Homo sapiens: one gene and its partners. The protein of the gene in region 2 purifies or fractionates together with the protein of the main gene of each other region. This does not show direct contact. Each region holds a gene or a part of one and is shown on either strand. Other genes may lie near its edges. The genes, in order: SLC2A12, CHCHD6, CTDSP2, HACD3 and SLC25A12.

What was found.
Region 1: the proteins of CHCHD6 (region 2) and SLC2A12 purify together in Homo sapiens (co-immunoprecipitation; one large-scale study listed by IntAct). This does not show direct contact.
Region 3: the proteins of CHCHD6 (region 2) and CTDSP2 purify together in Homo sapiens (co-immunoprecipitation; one large-scale study listed by IntAct). This does not show direct contact.
Region 4: the proteins of CHCHD6 (region 2) and HACD3 fractionate together in Homo sapiens (co-fractionation; one large-scale study listed by BioGRID). This does not show direct contact.
Region 5: the proteins of CHCHD6 (region 2) and SLC25A12 fractionate together in Homo sapiens (co-fractionation; one large-scale study listed by BioGRID). This does not show direct contact.

What each region holds. Positions count from the first base shown.
Region 1 is NC_000006.12:134,028,384-134,032,346, reverse strand, and holds part of SLC2A12 (solute carrier family 2, facilitated glucose transporter member 12), read left to right. Parts: intron 1-2,625; coding exon 2,626-3,963. UniProt on the Homo sapiens protein: Insulin-independent facilitative glucose transporter.
Region 2 is NC_000003.12:126,728,135-126,732,097, reverse strand, and holds part of CHCHD6 (MICOS complex subunit MIC25), read right to left. Parts: intron 1,538-3,963; coding exon 1,468-1,537; intron 1-1,467. UniProt on the Homo sapiens protein: Component of the MICOS complex, a large protein complex of the mitochondrial inner membrane that plays crucial roles in the maintenance of crista junctions, inner membrane architecture, and formation of contact sites to the outer membrane.
Region 3 is NC_000012.12:57,826,147-57,830,109, reverse strand, and holds part of CTDSP2 (carboxy-terminal domain RNA polymerase II polypeptide A small phosphatase 2), read left to right. Parts: intron 1-513; coding exon 514-662; intron 663-2,519; coding exon 2,520-2,558; coding exon of another isoform or gene 2,559-2,576; intron 2,577-3,012; coding exon 3,013-3,114; intron 3,115-3,707; coding exon 3,708-3,764; intron 3,765-3,963. UniProt on the Homo sapiens protein: Preferentially catalyzes the dephosphorylation of 'Ser-5' within the tandem 7 residue repeats in the C-terminal domain (CTD) of the largest RNA polymerase II subunit POLR2A.
Region 4 is NC_000015.10:65,533,341-65,537,303, forward strand, and holds part of HACD3 (very-long-chain (3R)-3-hydroxyacyl-CoA dehydratase 3), read left to right. Parts: intron 1-3,963. UniProt on the Homo sapiens protein: Catalyzes the third of the four reactions of the long-chain fatty acids elongation cycle. This endoplasmic reticulum-bound enzymatic process, allows the addition of two carbons to the chain of long- and very long-chain fatty acids/VLCFAs per cycle.
Region 5 is NC_000002.12:171,891,320-171,896,017, forward strand, and holds the start of SLC25A12 (electrogenic aspartate/glutamate antiporter SLC25A12, mitochondrial), read right to left. Parts: upstream 2,926-4,698; 5' UTR 2,896-2,925; coding exon 2,884-2,895; intron 1,940-2,883; coding exon 1,886-1,939; intron 1-1,885. UniProt on the Homo sapiens protein: Mitochondrial electrogenic aspartate/glutamate antiporter that favors efflux of aspartate and entry of glutamate and proton within the mitochondria as part of the malate-aspartate shuttle.

The DNA of each region.
Region 1 (3,963 bases), on a different chromosome or scaffold from region 2:
ATTAGCTAGATAAATTGCTGATTTAATTTCAGTTTACTGGGTTTTGTTCAAAATGCTCATAAATTTGCTTTATTTCTTGTGGATTATTGCACCTTTATTTGCTCCTCCATCTAAATATTCAGTGCTTTTTTCCCCTTATTTTTGGGGCTGCCAATTCCCATAGCCTACTAGGATCCTGGAGATGGAAAATACCTTGAGTATTTGTGGTAGAGCTTTAGATCACCTTTATTTGACCTGCTTATTTCACTAGAGCTGAATAGCATTTTTAACTATACCCTCCCCCAACCCCGAAAAGGCAGCCTTAGCTCAGCCTATGAAAACCGTGTGTGTAATCACATTTCTAACATTTGACTTACACCTCAGTTCTGATTCTTCTCCATCTCCTTTGCTGGCACTAGTCTTCTAAATATTGGCATTGCCTAGGTCCCAGTCTTGATCATGCTTTTCCTTTTCCCCTATTTTATCTTCCTAAGTGATCTCACCCATTCCTGTGGCTTTAAATACCAAATGTGTGCTGCTGGCTTCCAAATACATATGTCCAGGCTTGACCTATCTTTAAGCTCCAAATCTGTATACCCAATCCCCTACTTAACATTTTTACCTGAATGTCTTACAGATAAAATAAATAAACCATTTTACTAAGTCCAAAATGAAACTTTTGATTTTTGCCCCTCCTCTTATCACCACTCACAACCAGTTCTATTCCTAATCTTCCCTATGTTGGTATGTTGCGCTACACAGTATATAGTACAATGCCCTCTACATCTCTCAATGGGTGTTGGCCCCATATAGTACTGTATTGAGTATATCAAATATTGTAAAATCACCCACCCACCTGCTCAAGCCACAGAGCCATCCTGGGTTCTGACCCATTTTTTATCCCCCATCTCCAATTCTTGAACAAGTGTAATGTTTTTTTTGTTTGTTGTTTGTTTTTTGTTTTTTGTTTTTTTGTGAGATGGAGTCTTGCTCTGTTGCCCGGGGTGGAGTGCAGTGGCATGATCTCAGCTCACTGCAACCTCTGCCTCCTGGGTTCAAGTGATTCTCCTGCCTCAGCCTCCTGAGTAGCTGGGACTACAAGGCATGAACCATCATGCCCAGCTATTTTTGTACTTTTAATAGTGATGGGGTTTTGCCATGTTGGCCAGGCTGGTCTTGAACACCTGACCTCAGGAGATCCACCCACCTCAGCCTCCCAAAGTGCTGGGATTACAGGCGTGAGCCACCACATCCAGCCCTGAACAAGTGTAGTGGTTTTTAGCTCCAAAATAAGTCTTGAATCTGCCTACTTATCTCCAGTTCCACTCTTAACACCCAAGTCTAAGCTACCATTATCTCTTGTCCAAACCAAGGCAACAAACTCCTCCCTGCTACCAGTCTTGCCAGTCTTGCATTTTGAAGAACTAATCTCTACATAGCAGTGAAGGTGGACTTTATAAATAAGAAACCTATAGCGTCAATGCCCTCTACACCTCTCAGTGGGTGTTGGCTCCATTATACTTGGAACACAATGAAAAGTCATCACTGTGACCGACAAGGCCCTACTTGAAGTGCCCCCTCTGTACTTATCCAAATTCATTTTAAGCCCTTTCCGTCCTACCGCTCCAGGCTCACAATGTGCCCCACATGTTATATGTTGGCCATCTGACAGTTCCTAAAACATAATGAGAACTTTCCTGTCCTAAGGCCTTGGAAATTACTTTCTCCTGGGCCTGAAATACTCTTCCCTCTGTTGCTTTTTTGTTTTGTTTTATTTCTATTTTGACAAGTTGCAAACATATAACAAACATCTGTGTTCCTACCACCAAAAATTAATAGTTACTAACTTTTTGACATTTTTCCTTGGATTTGAACATTAACGAAAGAACAATATAAAGGTAAATTCTCCTTGTTCTGCCTGTGTTCCATCCCCCTTTCTCCTTACTCAGAATGAGTAAGGGATATTGCTGGTTCCTTACACTACATACATTTCTTCCTTCCTTCTGTTTAGCAAAACCTTGACTTTGTTAAGGCATTCACACACTGCCCACTCCCACCTCCACCCTCTGCCCCAACACCCTCATGTGTTCAGCAGAGGCCATTTGCAGCACGACTGTGGCCCAGGAGATAAGAGGGCAAGTTTCCTGGAGGCTGTGTTTCATTTTGACCCAGGCTATCCAGCAAGGAGGCTGTAGCACTTCTAGAGGCTCCTATCCTCTCTCTCCTGCCCTCAAAGATTTGCCTTTAGAGAACTGGAATGGGACCAAAGAGTCAGGCTCTTTGAATTTCTGATCCACTGCCAAGTCATGAACCAAATGATGTTCTTGTTTGTTCAGTCTTCATCATGTGTCATCTGCTTATCTCAACATCACTGTCTGATCTAAACCAAAAACATCAACATCATAAATAGAAGGAAACTGGACTTCCTACATGTCTCCATGCCTATCCTCCCAAAAAAGAAAGAAAAATGATTTCTCCTTCTATATCAAATCATTTTTTGGTTAGTGTATTATTTTATCATAATTGTGTGTTCGTTTAAACCCAGTGCTATGAAAGACTTCTACAAGGTTAAATCTCCGCTCAAATACAAAATGTTTAAAATCTCAACTGAGAACTGACCTCCCTGTCTCTTCTCTCTGCTTGCAGGCTGCGGCATGTTTACCTTCCTGTCATCTGTCACTGCTGCTGTCAGTGGCCTCCTGGTGGGTTATGAACTTGGGATCATCTCTGGGGCTCTTCTTCAGATCAAAACCTTATTAGCCCTGAGCTGCCATGAGCAGGAAATGGTTGTGAGCTCCCTCGTCATTGGAGCCCTCCTTGCCTCACTCACCGGAGGGGTCCTGATAGACAGATATGGAAGAAGGACAGCAATCATCTTGTCATCCTGCCTGCTTGGACTCGGAAGCTTAGTCTTGATCCTCAGTTTATCCTACACGGTTCTTATAGTGGGACGCATTGCCATAGGGGTCTCCATCTCCCTCTCTTCCATTGCCACTTGTGTTTACATCGCAGAGATTGCTCCTCAACACAGAAGAGGCCTTCTTGTGTCACTGAATGAGCTGATGATTGTCATCGGCATTCTTTCTGCCTATATTTCAAATTACGCATTTGCCAATGTTTTCCATGGCTGGAAGTACATGTTTGGTCTTGTGATTCCCTTGGGAGTTTTGCAAGCAATTGCAATGTATTTTCTTCCTCCAAGCCCTCGGTTTCTGGTGATGAAAGGACAAGAGGGAGCTGCTAGCAAGGTTCTTGGAAGGTTAAGAGCACTCTCAGATACAACTGAGGAACTCACTGTGATCAAATCCTCCCTGAAAGATGAATATCAGTACAGTTTTTGGGATCTGTTTCGTTCAAAAGACAACATGCGGACCCGAATAATGATAGGACTAACACTAGTATTTTTTGTACAAATCACTGGCCAACCAAACATATTGTTCTATGCATCAACTGTTTTGAAGTCAGTTGGATTTCAAAGCAATGAGGCAGCTAGCCTCGCCTCCACTGGGGTTGGAGTCGTCAAGGTCATTAGCACCATCCCTGCCACTCTTCTTGTAGACCATGTCGGCAGCAAAACATTCCTCTGCATTGGCTCCTCTGTGATGGCAGCTTCGTTGGTGACCATGGGCATCGTAAATCTCAACATCCACATGAACTTCACCCATATCTGCAGAAGCCACAATTCTATCAACCAGTCCTTGGATGAGTCTGTGATTTATGGACCAGGAAACCTGTCAACCAACAACAATACTCTCAGAGACCACTTCAAAGGGATTTCTTCCCATAGCAGAAGCTCACTCATGCCCCTGAGAAATGATGTGGATAAGAGAGGGGAGACGACCTCAGCATCCTTGCTAAATGCTGGATTAAGCCACACTGAATACCAGATAGTCACAGACCCTGGGGACGTCCCAGCTTTTTTGAAATGGCTGTCCTTAGCCAGCTTGCTTGTTTATGTTGCTGCTTTTTCAATTGGTCTAGGAC
Region 2 (3,963 bases):
TTTTTTTTTTTTTTTTTTTGGTTTTGGGTCTCACAATGTGGTCCAGGCTGGAGTGCAGTGGTGCAATCATAACTCACTGTAAACTCCAACTTCTGGGCTCAAGCAATCCTCCCACCTCAGCCTCTTGAGCAGCTGGGACTACAGGCATGTGTTACTACCCCCCAGTTAACGTTTTTAATTTTTTTGTAGAGACAGGGTCTCACTATGTTGCCCAGACTGGGCTCAAACTCCTGACTTCAAGCAATCCTCCTGCTTTAGCCTCCTAAATTCACTGGGATTACAGGATTGAGCCACCACACCTGGCCAGGTGAGTTATTCTTGCTAAGACCGATTAGGGAGAGTAAATCTTAGAATGTGGGTCTTAACCCATGGCTATGCAACAGACCCAACATGGCTGAACTACTAGAGGGCAAACGCCCAACCATGGCTGACACTGGGCCCCCTAAGCTGACCCACTGGGTCCTCTGACCATACTGAGGGCAATTTCCTCAAGGATGCTGAAGAGGTCAATCAGTAACAACTACTGTGAGCATCCACTGAGAACTCTGTAGGCCAGGTGCTGTGCTCATGTGCATGATATATATAAACATATTTAACCATGACAAGATCCCAATTAAAGAAGTACTCTTCTTAGCCCTTCTTAGATGCAGTGATATTTCAAGTTCACATAACTAGTAAGTTGCAGGATCAAGATGCCACCCTGTGCTCCACTGGGGCCTCTGTGCCTTAACCACTTTGCTAAAACTTCTCCGGCGACAGGAAGCAGGTCCCATGACAGAGGTGTGGCCAGCTCTTGGGGTCGTGGCCTGTGCTCACAAAGTTACCAACATCCTGGAGCCAGTTCATCTGGACAACCACAGTTAGCACTGGGAGGGCTCCACTTCCTCATCTCTCTAAAAACATGCCTGCATGTGCACACACATGCAGAAGTTCCAGCCACTCAACTGTTTAGTCCTAGCTTTTTTAAATGATTTTTTTTTTTTTTTTTTTTTTTTTTTTAGAGACAGGGTCACCAAGGCTGGAGTTCAGTGGTGCAATCACAGCTCCCTGCAGCCTCAGCTTCCTGAACTCAAGTGATTCTTCCACCTCAGCCTCCCGAGTAACTGGGACTACACAGGCACACACCACCACCCCCAGCTAATTTTTTATCTTTTAGAGACAGGGTCTTGCTATGTTGCCCAGGCTGGTCTCAAACTCCTGGCCTCAAGCAACCCTCCTGCCTTGGCCTCTCAAACTGCTGGGCATGAGGAACATTAACAATCAATTCCCCTATGCCCCTTTTGGTGTTTCTACATCTTTAAACTAGGACCAGTGATACCTATACCATAGGGTTGTCCTTCAATGCAACTGAGATTAATTATGTGAGACAAAGCCTCCAGGGCTTCAGGCAAGGAGAGGGGTACCCAGTGAGGAAAGAGGCTTTTAGGCGGAGCGCAGTGCCGGGAGCAAGCAGGCTCTCGGGCTCACCTCTTGACACCCTCCTTCATCCCTGAGGGCTGCTGGCCACCACTGCTCCCCGACCTGGGCAGTGTGGATTCTGCAAAGGAAAGAGAAGAAAGGGCCTGTCAGTGGCACCCCAGGGTCCACGAAGTCACAGAGGTCACCCAGAGAGGAATGACCCCCATGAATGAATGTGCCCCTTGGAAGGCAGCATCACAGATGTGTCCCCACAAAGGAGCGTCCACAGGGGCAGACAAGGAACACCCTTGATTCAAGCTGTCTGGAAAGCCAGATGATCCAAGCCACCTCTTATCCCGAAGGGGTCTCTGCACCAGGATGCCCACAACACTGGGTGCAGTGTTCCAAACCCATCCCTACTCTCCTGACAATTATTTGGAATCCAGGTCATCTCCTAAGCACAGGCCAGGAGTGGCTGCGGGAAGGTATTGCTTTGCTTCATGAGGACAACCTCCCGGGTAGAGGTTTTGGCATAGGGAAGGGAAGGGGTGGGGGCTCTTTAAATCTTGTTTCCCTTAGTACCCACCTGAGTCTGCACAATCCTCACTGTGGCAAATGCCCCATATTAAACCTAATTCTACTTAACCACTATCGCCTTTAGTATTATTGGGCTCTTTTTGTTGTTACAGTAGGTCCCTTTTGATCATCACGAATTTCGGGATTTCTGAGCAAATCCAATTCACTCTCCCCACCACTTGCTGATACTGAAGGTTTTGTTACTACCCTGTCCCCAGCCTTTACCCTTCCAAAGCTCTCTGTCAGCCAAAGCTCACCACCTTTCTTGGCCTTCTCCGATGTCCCACACCTCCCTCCACCACAGGGTTCTATGCACCAGCAGCCAGAACCACATAGAGCATAACATAAGAACCAGGCTGTGTGAGGCGCTCAATGAGGGTGTGCGACTCCACCCCAGACCCGTCAGGGATCCTTCGGGGGGCACTTCTGAAAGCATCAGCTGTGACTACTCGCACTTTCAAACCACCTCTCATGGGAGGAGAGCACCTCCCATGCTCCTCAGCAACACACCAGGTTCTCAACTGAGGTGAACTCAGGAGCCTGCTGCGGGGTTTCATCTCCACACTAGTGCTCGCCATGCTTATTTATTTGTCTGAAGAGCTTTACTGAGGTTTAATGTCTGGTATTTTTGCTTTTTATATAATTTTCCATTTTTTAACTACAAAAATAACGGGGCTGCCAATGTAGAGCATGTGGCACTCATCCTCACTGCCCTTTCTGTGTGCCCCTGCCCGCTCCCCGCTCCCTTGGAGTGCACATTGTTGAACATGTGTTTCTTTCAGTATTAGTGACGTGGAGATCCTGTCATGAGTATGGCCATCTGTGCACATTTCCTACTGAGTTGTCTTTCTTAAAGATCTTTAAGAACTCGCTACATATTAAGATTACTAGGACTTTGTCAAATGTTATATTTTCCCTAACTTATCCATTCCTGTTACTTCTTTTCTAAATTGTCTAATTTCTTATATTCACATTTCCTATTTTTTTTAATTTAAGGTTTCTTCGTTTAATATGACGTGTAGAAAATCTATCTTCTATTGTACTTTCATGGCTTCAAGCCATACATTTCAATCTTTTATTTCCTCTGACATTTTTGGGGGGTATAGTATGAGAAGAATTTAATTTTAATTTCTTTTTCTAACTTTGTTCCATCACTAAAATAAAGCAAAAACTGGTTTTAAAAGTACAAAATATCTTAAAATTAGTTAACTTTAAGACAGTCCATTTATGCTGACTCTTCAACATTCAGAAACAAAACTTACACCTATCATTTAAACAGCAAAGTACTTTGTTATAATTAACTCCAAGTGACAAAAGAACCACTGTTCTTGCTTTCTAAACTGCTGGAACTTACCAAACTGAAGCAAATGCTTCTTATTTCTTCTAAAGCTGAAACTGATGTGTAGTATTATATATTATGGCAATTTTCGCTTTTATCATCACTTTCTCCCTCTTTCGAGTTAATCCAGTTTGTTAAAGTGCATTGGGTCAAGTTAGACTCCTCTTAAGCCCTTCTCATCAGTTAGTTAGAGCCAGCGTGGGGAGTAAGTGAGCCCTATTAGTAAAGGACAAGGGCTTCTTGGAGGGTTTTCGGGAATCTCACACATCCCCTACAGTGGTAGATATTCAGAAAGATCTTGGGGTGGGTCCAAATCCAGGTGCTGACTGGCTCCTGGGCAATGCTTCTAGGCCCCCGAGCAGGCTGGGATGCACCCTGTCGCCGGACCTCCGCTCCTGCAATCTGCCCATTCGCAGTGCCCACCCACCACCATTCCTCCTGCCTTTCACAGTCCCTCTTCTCCCGTGAGCCTGGTACAGATTCCAGTGTTGCATCACAACATGACACATAACTCATCAGTCTCCATAACCAGAGCCAGGTGTGCCATGAGAGAGGGTCCCTGCCCACCTATCACTGTGTCTTGGCACAGGGCACAGGACTTGGTTCTGGGTGGCCTTCAGTAAACACTAAGTGGGCAGGATACAGCTCTC
Region 3 (3,963 bases), on a different chromosome or scaffold from region 2:
CTGGCCTCTATCCTGAAGTTTTTAGGCAAATTGGGCTCCGTTCTGCCTCCACTAAGCCAGTATCTAGGGAAGCTGATGCTAAACAGAACTACAGCTCCACTAACTCAAAGGGGACCAGGTTTCTCCGTTGTCTGGAACCGATGGTCTTCCTGGGAATTGACGTTAGGGAGGATTTTTGTCTTCGTGAATTAATTTTGAGTGTGCTGCAGCTGGAGCAGCAGAACACCTTGATTCTATGCCTGGCCCCATCTTCCCCGATGGAATGAAAAACAAATGCTCTGTGGCTCAGGTCTCCCAAGCCAGAGAGTGGGGATTCCTGACATTCCTGCTTTAAAGAGAAAAGGCTGGAATAAACATGTATGTTTGACTGTTAACTGTATGTGGTTGTTCACCAGCCGTATACTGTGTGCCCTAGTAGAGTTTACAAACTAGAAGAGCTATGGGCATGGTAGTATCTGTGGACAGAAACTGATGTCCCTAGAGCTAAAGCCTCTGTCATTCTCTCCACCCTAGGCCTGGTCTCCAAGTCCTCTCCTAAGAAGCCTCGTGGACGTAACATCTTCAAGGCCCTTTTCTGCTGTTTTCGCGCCCAGCATGTTGGCCAGTCAAGTTCCTCCACTGAGCTCGCTGCGTATAAGGAGGAAGCAAACACCATTGCTAAGGTAGGTGGGTTGGGGTGGTAAGATGCCAGCAATGAAGGGACTGTTAATGGGAGATCCCTGCAGACGATGGCAACCGGACAAGGAAGCTTTGCCTGAAGTTGCAAAGATTTCTGGCTGAGAGGGGGCCCTTCCTCCATCCTTCCATAAGTAGTGTATTTCCTTTCTGTTCCTTCCCTTTTGCGGTGTGGGCCATTCACATGTCACTGTGGTTTCTGAGGGCCCCTGTGATCCTGATCCTTCCAGGTTCCAGGAACTAGGCAAGGTGCTTTGCATATATTGTCTCATGTGATCCAGCCAGCAGCCCTGTAAGGAGATCACAGGATTCACACTTTGCAGATATGGATTTATGTAGAGGGTTTATGTAGCACCTGAAGAGTTCATGGTTAATAAATAGTAGTGTCAGGATTTGAACTTAGATTTCTCTGGCTCTAAAGCCTGTGTTGTTGTTCTCAATTATGCAAAGCTAACTTCCAAGTTACCTGAGTTACAGGGAACCAAGGAATTGAAACTCTACCATGCTGTTAATAACTCCTGTCAGCAGTTCTCTCCCATACTCATGCAAGGCATTTGGGATTTTGTGGGTATTTTTTATATGTCTAGTATTTCACAGGTGGGGCCAGCCCCGACCAACAAAAATTATTCTGCCCCAAAAGCCAGTGGTACTTCTCTGAAACACTGAGGTCTGGTTGTCCTTCCTTTTTCTCAAGACCAGGCTGAAGACATACATCAGTGAAAAATCACTGCATTTTGCAGTAGGGGAAATGGTTAAATAAAATACAACATGACAGTATTACTGAGTGATTAGCTTTTACAGAGTTCTCAATAACATGGAGAAGTATTGAGTTGCAACATTAAGTAAAAAGGCAGAGTGTGTAATTGTATAGCATTCTGGAAAAAGTCTGCGGACACAGATTTGAAGGCAGTACACTGAATGCCACATTGTTTATCTAAGTGCTAGGATTTTAATTTTTCTTCAAAGTTTTCATTAAGAACACTTAAAACCATAACTTTTTTTTTTTTTTTTTTGAGATGGAGTTTCGCTCTTGTTGCTCAGGCTGGAGTGCAATGGCGTGCGATCTTGGCTCACCGCAACCTCCGCCTCCCGGGTTCAAGCGATTCTCCTGCCTCAGTCTCCCGAGTAGCTGGGATTACAGGCATGTGCCACCACGACCGGCTAATTTTGTATTTTTAGTAGAGACGGAGTTTCTCCATGTTGATCAGGCTGGTCTCGAACTCCTGACCTCAGGTGATCCGCGCGCCTCGGCCTCCCAAAGTGCTGGGATTACAGGCATGAGCCACTGCGCCCGGCGGTCATAACATTTGTATTAGCAAAAATTGGGGTGGGGGGCTTGCTGATCTCTCTGCACTCCCTCCCCTCACATTTTGGGTACCTACAATGTGGCTTACTTGATGTTTTATAGGGCTTGTTCCCCCACATAACCCCTAAGGAGGGCATGGAAAACAACATGTTCTCAAGGAGAAGCCTGAGTTTAAGGACTTAGCGAGAGTTTGCCACTGTGAGGAATTCAGACTTTGGTTCTGCCTCTGACTCTGTGTCCCTGAATCAGTTACTTGAGTTCCCTGTTCCTCACTTTGTCCAGTTGAGAGGCAGTGGCAGCCGAGAACAGGGACACTTGTCTTCTCCATCCTTCATCAGGCCTAATGTGGAAAGGAAGCTCTAGCCTTTCCCTTTTCCTGCCCCACTCCTAGGAAAAGTCACTTTTGACATGGTAGGAGCTTCCAGGTGGCTGGGTCTGGGGGAGAAAGTTGCCCTCCAGGCTTAAGACAGAAGCAGTGGGTTTGGATGGGGTGGGAAAGGCAGTGAGATGGCACTGACCACCTCCTTCTCTTCCTCAGTCGGATCTGCTCCAGTGTCTCCAGTACCAGTTCTACCAGGTACGTGACTCTGGCCTGGTAAGTACTCAGAAGCCAGGATCCTGTGATCCCTGCCAGCTCCACGGGCAGGGTGATGTGCATAGTCCTTGGTGCCTAGCCAGCCACCTCCCTGACCTGGGAAGCCATTTGTTCCCCATACTTGTTGAGGGCCTGCTATGTGCAAGGCATTAGATTTTAGGGGACAGCTGGTGCTCCATGCCCTCTTCCCACAGCTGCTGTCCATCCCACACCTGCCCTGGCCACCACCTCCAATGTCCAGATCACTTAATAGTCCCACTGGGAGGCTGAAACCAAGGAAACAACTCCACCTCCTTTCTTCCTGGCCTTTAAGTGGTGCCTATCCTGGGTTGGTGATTGTGTCTCCACAAACAACCCAGCTCTTCCCATAATTATGCCAAGGGGTACAATTGGGCTTTCTTGGTAGGCAGATCTCAGCAACCTGGCTTGGTTTTAGATCCCAGGGACCTGCCTGCTCCCAGAGGTGACAGAGGAAGATCAAGGAAGGATCTGTGTGGTCATTGACCTCGATGAAACCCTTGTGCATAGCTCCTTTAAGGTAACTCAATGTCTGGAACCCTTCCTACCTTTATCTTGGGCCTTCTTGTGAATCTGGCAACAGATGTGTAAGGCAGCCTAAAGGTGAGGAAAGAAGAGTGATTAGAAGGGAAAAGGCCAGGCCTCTGGCATTTTGGCCACCCTGTGTCACAGGTATCTAGAGGCCCCACTGAAGAATGTTGAGTAGGAACCCTGTGTGTTCCACCAGGGCTGCTATCTCCAGTCACTCCCAACAGGCTGCATCTGCCCCCGAGCCACATAGCACAGAAAGCCAGCCACGAGGGCTCTGTACAGGGCAGGCCTAAAAGAGTGGTTGGATCACCTTTGGCCCTTGCCCCTGCTTGTCTCCTCAGGAAACTCAGGCCCCAAAACTCTCAGCCCAGGTAGAATTTGTCAGAGTGGAGGTGCTAAGGAGTAGGGAAAACCAGAATGGGGTATCACATCTTGAACTAGGGTGAGAACCCCTTAATGAGGTGGCCAGAGGCACTTCCAGGAGTCTTTAAGACCTGTTTCTCCCCACCCACCTAGGGGTATGGTGGGGGCCTCATGTTTCTTTGCCACCATGCTGACAGCATTAACTTTTCTGCCTTCCAGCCAATCAACAATGCTGACTTCATAGTGCCTATAGAGATTGAGGGGACCACTCACCAGGTGAGCTGCCAGCCAGACCACACCCAGCCCAGAGGGTGGGGGGTCTGCCTTCTGCCTCACCTGTACTGGGGTCCTCCACCCATCTCAGGGCTTGGGTTCTGTCAGTTGATCCCTTTTCTATAACTCCAGCCTCCCCTTTTTATTGGTATCTTTCACTCAAGGCTTTCTCACCTTAAAAAAAGAGTTTCAGCCCCATATC
Region 4 (3,963 bases), on a different chromosome or scaffold from region 2:
ATATGGGAGTTTCGTGGTTGGGTATCTGAATAAATCTTACCTGTAGGGCAGGGAGACTAGTATAAGAACAAAACTGTAATTGCTACAGGAGTAGCAGTCACTCAATTTGGCCAAAGGGTGTTTGGTATTTCGTGAGTGGCATAGCCACTATGTATTTGTCTGTGCTTATAACAAAATTGTGAAATGGCCTTTGTCTCATTTTATGAGGATTTCAGAGTAACCTTGTCTGAGGTTGGTATTCTGTGAGATTGTTTATGTCCCATAGGAGAATAACATGGCCTGGCTGTGAGTGCTATGCCTGCTTCTGGAGTGTCACGGGTTGCCTTTTTTTTTTCTTTCTCAACTGATTGCTCTATGCAGGGCCTGTTGAAACCAGTGGTTTTACATGTGCAGATTTGTTATTTAAAAAAAAAAAAAAGAAAGAAAAGCAGCCGGGTGTGGTGGCTCATGCCTGTAATCCCAGCACTATGGGAGGCCGAGACGGGCGGATCATGAGGTCAGGAGATCGAGACCATCCTGGCTAACACGGTGAAACCTCGTCTCTACTAAAAATACAAAAAAATTAGCCAGGCGTGGTGGCGGGCGCCTATAGTCCCAGCTACCAGGAGGCTGAGGCAGGAGAATGGCGTGAACCCGGGAGGTGGAGCTTGCAGTGAGCCGAGACTGCGCCACTGCACTCCAGCCTGGGGGACAGAGCGAGACTCCGTCTCAAAAAAAAAAAAAAAGAAAAGAAACCAGTGGTTCTGGCTCTGGATGAAGCACTTCATTTATTTGTTCAGTAAAAATCGTTTATGGAGTACCTACTCTTGTCTATCATTAAGCTAGGTGTGGGGTTCTTGGACAGCACTTTAACACTCTCTGCTTTCTATAGCATGACCCACAGCTTATGTGTAAGTGTGAGTTTTAAAGTGTTAAGTTCCAGTTTGGAGGCATTGGCTCTGTCTCCCTCCATCCTGACACAGGGAACTGTCCAGTCATCACATCTCTATTCTGTCTTGGATGCTGCAGGGCTAGTGACTATGAGAGAACACGGCTGATGTGAGGAGAAATGGTGGACAATAAAGACTTCAGCAGTGGCATCGTCTGTGCTTGAGGTGAACGGTAGCAAAGAGGCCAGCTAAAGCAGGGTTACTTTCAAGATTGAATTTACTTTCACGATGAACATAATGAACGTGTTTGTCCCGAGAAACATAGTTGTTAAAGCATTGGTTTATTTACAAGGTGCTTGTTTGTTTTGGGTGTTGTGAGCAGAGAACAGAGCGTAGCTGTGTTTGAGAGCTGTTTGAAAGATATTGTTCCTGTCCTTACCTAACAGAGTCTGGTGGAAAGAGTGCTAACTGAACACATGAGATTGGGTCCTTGTTCTTATTACACTTATGCTCTAGTGACCATGATTCACTTAACCTTTATGAACCTGACGCTCTTCATCCAGACAGATATGAACAGTAGTGCCTAACTCATAGGACCATTTTGAGATTTGAATTGGAAAATGGATTTGAAAGTGCTTTGCAAATTCTAGTGTGCAGTTCAAGTGAGTGATTATGATGATTGCGATATTAAACCTTAGATGAGAGGGATGGTCACAGAGCAATGGAAGAATAGAGCCTATTAGCAGACCTATTCATATATGAAAAGTTAAGGTATGACAAGAGGCGCTCTTACAAATTAATGAGGAGAGAATGACCCATTCAGGAAATTGTACTGGGACAATTGGTAATCCAAATGGCAAAAAGAAAATAAGATCCTGCCTTATGCCATACACAAAAATCAGTTTCAGGTGCATTAATGACCTAAACGCATAAAGAAAAACTACTAAAAAGAAATATAGGAGACTATCTTTATAATATTGGAAAGGGGGAGAATGTGTTAAGCAAGATGCACAAAACACAAACCCTAAAGACAAAGATTGGCACATTTAAGACAAACTTGAAGAAGACATTTGCAGTGCATATCATTGAGAGATGACTAATATCACGACTATTTAAAGAACACCTACAGACCAATAGGCAAAAGACGTATTACCTAATAGAAAAAGGGGCAGATAATATAAACATTTCAGAGTAAAAGGAAACAAGAATGACCAATAAGTCTGAAAAGATGCTTGACTGCAATTATGACCAGGCACATGTACAGGCATACCTTGTTTTATTGTGCTTTGCTTTATTGTGCTTTGCAGATAATGCGGTTTTGACAAATTGAAGGTTGTGGCAACAAAGTCTGTTGGCGTCATTTTTCCAACAGCATGTGTTCATTTAGTGTCTCTGTGTTGTATTTTGTTAATTCTTGGAATAGTTCAGATTTTTTCATTATTATTATATCTGTTCTGGTGATCTGTGATCAGTGATCTTTGATGTTAACTTTTTTTTTTTTTTTGAGGCAGGGTCTCACTCTGTTGCCCAGGTTGGAGTGCAGCAGTGTGATCATAGCTCACCGTAGCCTTGAACTCCTGGGTTTGAGCAGTCCTCCTGGCTCAGCCTACCAAGTAGGACTACAGGTACCTGCCTAGCTAATTTTCAATTTTTTAATTTTTTTAGAGGTGGGGTCTCATTATGTTGGCCAGGCTGGTCTTGAACTCCTGGACTTAAGCAATCCTCTTGCCTTGGCCTCCCAGATCCCTGAGGTTACAGGCTTGAACCACTGTGCCTAGCCTTGATGTTACTATTGTGATTGTTTATTATTTATTTATTTATTTTTGAGACAGGGTCTCACTCTGTCACCCAGGCTGGAGTGCAGTGGTGTGATCTTGGCCCACCGCAACCTCCGCCTCCCAGCCTCAAGTGATCCTTCCACCTCTGCTTCCCAAGTAGCTGGGACTGCAGGCATGTGCCACTGTGCCCAGCTAGTTTTTGTATTTTTTGTAGAGACGAGGTTGGTCTCGAACTCCTAAGCTCAAGTGGCCTGCCCACCTCGGCCTCCCAAAGTGCTGGGATTACAGGTTTGAGCCACTGTGCCCAGCCACCATTGTGATTGTTTTATGGCAAAATGAAATGCACCTATATAAGATGGTGAACTTAATCGATAAATGTATGTGTTCTGACTGCTCTCACTGGCCATTCCTCCATCTCTCTCCCTCTCCTTGGGCCTCTCCTCTGAGACACAACAATATTGAAATTAAGCCAGTTAATAACCCTACAATGGGGTCGGGTGTGATGGCTCATGCCTGTAATCCCAGCACTTTGGGAGGCTGTGGTGGGTGTGTCACTTGAGGTCAGGAGACCAGCCTGGCCAACATGGTGAAACCCCGTCTCTACTAAAAATATACAAAAATTAGCTAGGTGTGGTGGCGGGTGCCTGTAATCCTAACTACTCAGGAGGCTGAGGCAGGAGAATCACTTCAACCTGGGAGGCTGAAGTTGGGTGAGCTGAGATCACGCCACCGCACTCCAGTGGCAGAGTGAGACTCTGTCTCAAAAACAAAACAAACAAACAAGCCCTACAGTGGCTTCTAAGTGTTAAAGTGAAGAGTTGCACATGTCTCACTTTAAATCAAAAGCTAGAAATCATTAAGCTTAGTGAGGAAGGCATGTCAAAACTGAGACAGGCTGAAAGCTAGGCCTCTTGCACCAAGCAGCCAAGTTGTGAATGCAAAGAAACAATTTTTGAAGGAAATTAAAAGTGCTATTCCAGTGAACACCCAAATGATAAGAAAGCAAAATATCCATATTGCTGATATGAAGAAAGTTTGAGTGGTCTGGATAGAATATAAATCAGCCACGACATTCTCTTAAGCCAAAGCCTAATCCAGAACAAGGCCCCAACTCTTTCAATTCTATGAAGGCTGAGAGGTGAGGAAGCTGCAGAAGAGAAATTTGAAGCTAGCAGAAGTTGATTCATGAGGCTTAAGGAAAGGCTCCATAACATAAAAGTGCAAGGTGAAGCTACAAGTGCTGATTGTAGAAGCTGCAGCAAGTTATCCAGAAGATCTAACTAAGATCCTTGATGAAGGTGGCTGCACTGAACAAC
Region 5 (4,698 bases), on a different chromosome or scaffold from region 2:
AAGAGCTAGGGACAGTCCTCGCCATTCTCCTCATACCTCCAACCCACCTCTACCCCCACTCAAAAACAAAAAACAAATCCATACAGAATCACAGTATATTTTTTTCCCATAGAATTTTTAAAGCTAGAAAGACCTCAATTCCCATTCCTTTATGTCCCACTGAGTCCCACATGAGAAGCTGAAACTCAGGAAGGCCAGATGATTAGCCTAAGGGTACAAGAACCAGATAAATGCAGGGCTGGGAATTAACTCCGTATTCCTAGGCAGTACTCAGATACCTAGGCAGTATTCTTTTCACTACATCATGCAGCATTTCAACTCATTTCTTCCGCATCTACTTAGTCTAGAACATAAAATTAACTATATCACATGAACTCTTCACAAAACAATTGACTATAATCACATGGTATGGTGAATACCGATATATTTTTGGCTATTTTCAAGAATGCCTGCAAGGAATAAAGGTTTCAAGTCATAAATGGACCATTTCTGTTATTATAATTACTTCTGTTCTGGAAAAAAATACTTCCCTTATCAGATATTATGACCTTTAAGATTCCCATTTTCACAAATTATTTTTCATAAACTACACATATGTATGCTCAACTACGCAGCGTCTTACCCAACAATAGCTTAAGCAAACCACATATCTCAAATAAAAATGTCATCTATTCCAGGCTCATCAGCATATGTTAGAATCTGTTCCTAAAATAGACTCATAGACTTTTGGAATGGGAAGGAACCTTGGAGATCACCTCTCATTTCACAGAGGAAAATAATACACAGCAGGGACCTGCCCAAGGTCAAAGTGTCTTCATAAGAACCCAGGTCCAGAATAGAAAGTTCTCAAAAGATTTCAGAGAGAAATGCAATATTTGGTGAAACACCTTAGCTTGCCTCCCTTTACATCTACTTTTTTTTTTTTTTGAGACAGTGTCTCTCTGTCCCCAGGCTGGAGTGCAGTGGCACGATCTCGACTCACTGCAAGCTCCGCTTCCCGGGTTAACGCCATTCTCCTGCCTCAGCCTCCCGAGTAGCTGGGACTACAGGCGCCCACCACCACGCCCGGCTAATTTTTTGTATTTTTAGTAGAGACGGGGTTTCACCGTGTTAGCCAGGATGGTCTCGATCTCCTGACCTCATGGTCCACCCGCCTCGGCCTCCCAAAATACTGGAATTACAGGCGTGAGCCACCGCGCCCGGCCTACATCTACTTCTTAAGTACAATTTCCTGCATAGGAAACTTTTGAAATTTAAGAAAAGAAAGCAAAACAAAAAACTAAGCCAACCTTTTTTTTTTCTTTTTTCTTTTCTTTTTAAGTCTACAGCCAAGTCACTGATTCTAAAAGCTTAGAAGTTAAGGTAGACCATTGCAAGAATCTTAAGAGGTAACATTTTGGGGTAAAATCCCCAAGGCTTAAGGATACAATGTAAGTAAGACACACAAATTAAGAATAGCTATAATATTCTTATCTCTGTAACAAATTACATGGAGGATAGCTCATAAGTAGGAAAACTTTGTAAACATGCAACTTTCAAGGAAGAGAATTTTAGTCATCATACCTATTAACTATACAAGAATGCCAATACATTTTGAAATTTTATCTTGGTCTCTGTGCTTAAGCTGGAAATTTTTTTTCAAAATATATATCTTAAGTCATGTAAAAAAAAAAGCAGTAACTTGAGGAAAACCTTTTATCGACCCTTAATTAAAAGAAGGCCTTAAATCAAACCTTATTAAGAGAAGTATAAGCTATATTGTCCGGTCATGTTTGAAAGAATACATGAAAACTGAACATTCCTCAAAGTTAAGGCATGAATAGGACTAAGGACATGTACGTTTTTTGTTTTTGCAATGAAAGGCACACTATGCAAGCCAATTTACCTGTAGAAATATGTTTCTTAACTCATGAGGATCCCCTCGCTTAGTTGTCTGCACCTGTAAGCAAAAAAGAAAAAAAAGCCAGTTAATGCTTCACTAGAGACCACACAATCTCTTCAGATTAGAGGTCACATGGCTAACAATCAATGCTCCTATCTTTTATCATTTAGTTTAAAACAAACTAAAAGCCCTAATTGCTGATAAGAACTGTCAAACTGGATAACTGTGACTAGAGGGCAGAAAAACAGGTGCGAATAGCCTAAGATACAGCAAAGCTATCGGACAGTGCTTCCTCTGGACTGGAAAGGGAAGGCAATGAGGATCTTTTACTTTATTCCACATCTACTAGCAACACAGTAGTAACCACCCACCTTCAAATCAAGAAGCTAACAAGAGTAGATCAACAGGAAAGTTAAATCACCCAAATTAATCACTTGGCCTAGCAGCCTTTCTCCATAAAAAGCAAACCCAACATGTAATTATCTCCGCGTCCCTCTCCCCATCCAACCTAAAATATGAGAGCTGCCACAAATACAAATACTTTCCATACCCTGCAATCTGCAACGCAAAAGCCAACCACTGCCCTCGGCCTTATTGAGGCCCCAAATTACTCAATACTTACTCCCTCCCCCACCGCAATTCACTGATACCCTAGGTATCCCCAGCTTTACTTGCCACTTCCTCCCACACCCTTTCTGATGCCCTCCAACTCCGGACTCACAATCCCATGCACCTAGGACAGGACATTACTCTTCCTTCACTGACCCGTGTTACCGTACAAGCCCCTTCAACTCACAATCCCTCCTCCTTCCCCTCCCCCAGCCGGGCATCCCCTCCTCCGGTCCAAGCCCCGCACAGCTCTCCCCGCAGCAAGCCGGAGCCCCAGGACAAGCTATCTAAGACCTAGACAATGAATAAAATGGGAAGCAGTGGGGGGCTGCAGGCAGGGCGCTCGGAATGTCTCTTATGCAATAAAAGCAGCAGCAGAGAGTTGGAGTCACCTTGACCGCCATGCTGTGCTCGGAAGCCGGGGACGAGCGAGTGAGCGAGCAGGGCCGAGCTGTCAGGGCGCGCGCGCGCCGTCTTCCCGGCCGCGCCCGCCCTCCCTCTCGCCGGCGCCGCGCGCGTCCCTATGCAAATGAACTCGGGGCGCGCCGCGTGCGGAAAGGGGCCCGGCGTCCCGGCCAGAAAGGCAGCTGGTCCAGGGCCGGCCGGCCGGGCGGAGGAGGGGGACGCGCCTCCCACGGGGAAAACAAGCGCGACCCATGGGATCCCGACGCGCCGCGTGGTTGCCACAGCTAGGTCGCCGCCAGGAAAGCCCCAGGTTTCCTAAGGCCTCTTAGTGGGTGTGGCTTTGGGCACCGACCAGCCAAAGTCGTTTTCCCCGAGGCTTAAAGGAACATTTGGGGCCTATACTGAGCAAGGTTCCGACGGATCAAAGAGCACTTCCCATTAATAACAATGAATTAATGACAACTGATGGCAAATACCGACAAAACAAGATTGGGAACCACTCACTCTAGGGAAAACCTACGTAAACATAATTTGAGAAATATGCTCCTAAATTGGCATGGGACGAATACGCTGAATTTATTTTTGCTTTGCGTGCTATTACAACGGTTTATTAGTAGACTCGCTCCACTTTCCTAATCACCCAAATCCTGTGTGCAATGAGAAAAAAAACTCTATGTGTCTTTGACAGGGCTGGCAATGAATCGCTTGCCCATACATGAACAGAAAGTAATTCTCCATTCGATTTCTAGCCCTACCTAAGAAGTAGAAGAAGCAGTAACTCTATCTTGAACCAAAACAATGTTTCTAAACCCGTCTTGCCAATATCACTGTATTAGGCTACATATTGATTCAAACATGTATGGGCATCCATTATATGCCTGACATGGTCCTGCTTGTAAAAAACGCAAATAACCTATAGCCCCCACCCTCTAGGGGCTTACAGATGGTCAATGCTTCTCCACAACCCCAATCACATGTGTATTGTGTGTATGTGTGTCTGTGTGTGTGTGTGTTGAGACTGAGTCTCGCTCTGTCGCCCAGGCTGGAGTGCAGTGGCACCATCTTGACTCACTGCAACGTCCACCTCCCAGGTTCAAGAGATTCTCTTGCCTTGGCCTCCCGAGTAGCTGGGATTACAGGCACCCGCCGCAATGCCCAGTTAATTTTTTGTATTTTTAGTAGAGACAGGGTTTCACTATGTTGGCCAGGTTTGTCTCAAACTTCTGACCTCTGGTGATCCGCCCACCTCGGCTTCCCAAAGTGCTGGGATTACAGGCGTGAGCCACCGCGCCCGACCCTGTGTATGTTTTCATTTTTAATTTTTTGAGACGGAGTCTCGCTCTATCGCCCAGGCTGGAGTGCAGTGGCGCCATCTTGGCTCACTGCAACCTCTGCCTCCTGGGTTCAAGCAATTCTCCTGCCTCAGCCTCCCAAGTAGCTGGGATTACAGGTGCACGCCACCATGCCTGGCTAATTTTGTATTTTTAGTAGCTATGGGGTTTCGCCCAAGCCACTTATAATTAGACACTAGATAAATGACACACTTTAGGGCTTCTCTATACTGTACAACTATTCTCCCTATATGAACATTTGCTGTCATTGAAATAAATTCTCGTTTTGGTGGAAATGGAAGAGAGGGGTATCAAAAATCAGAAGAAATAGTTGTACTCCTGCAGTTATGTCTTTTCCTGAACTGTCTTCCTCACAGCCTGACTCTAAATCCTATAAATTATGCAGTGGAGATGATGGTGATCTTATTTTTGGACCACAGCCTTCTTTATTCCCTTGGTGAAGCAATAACA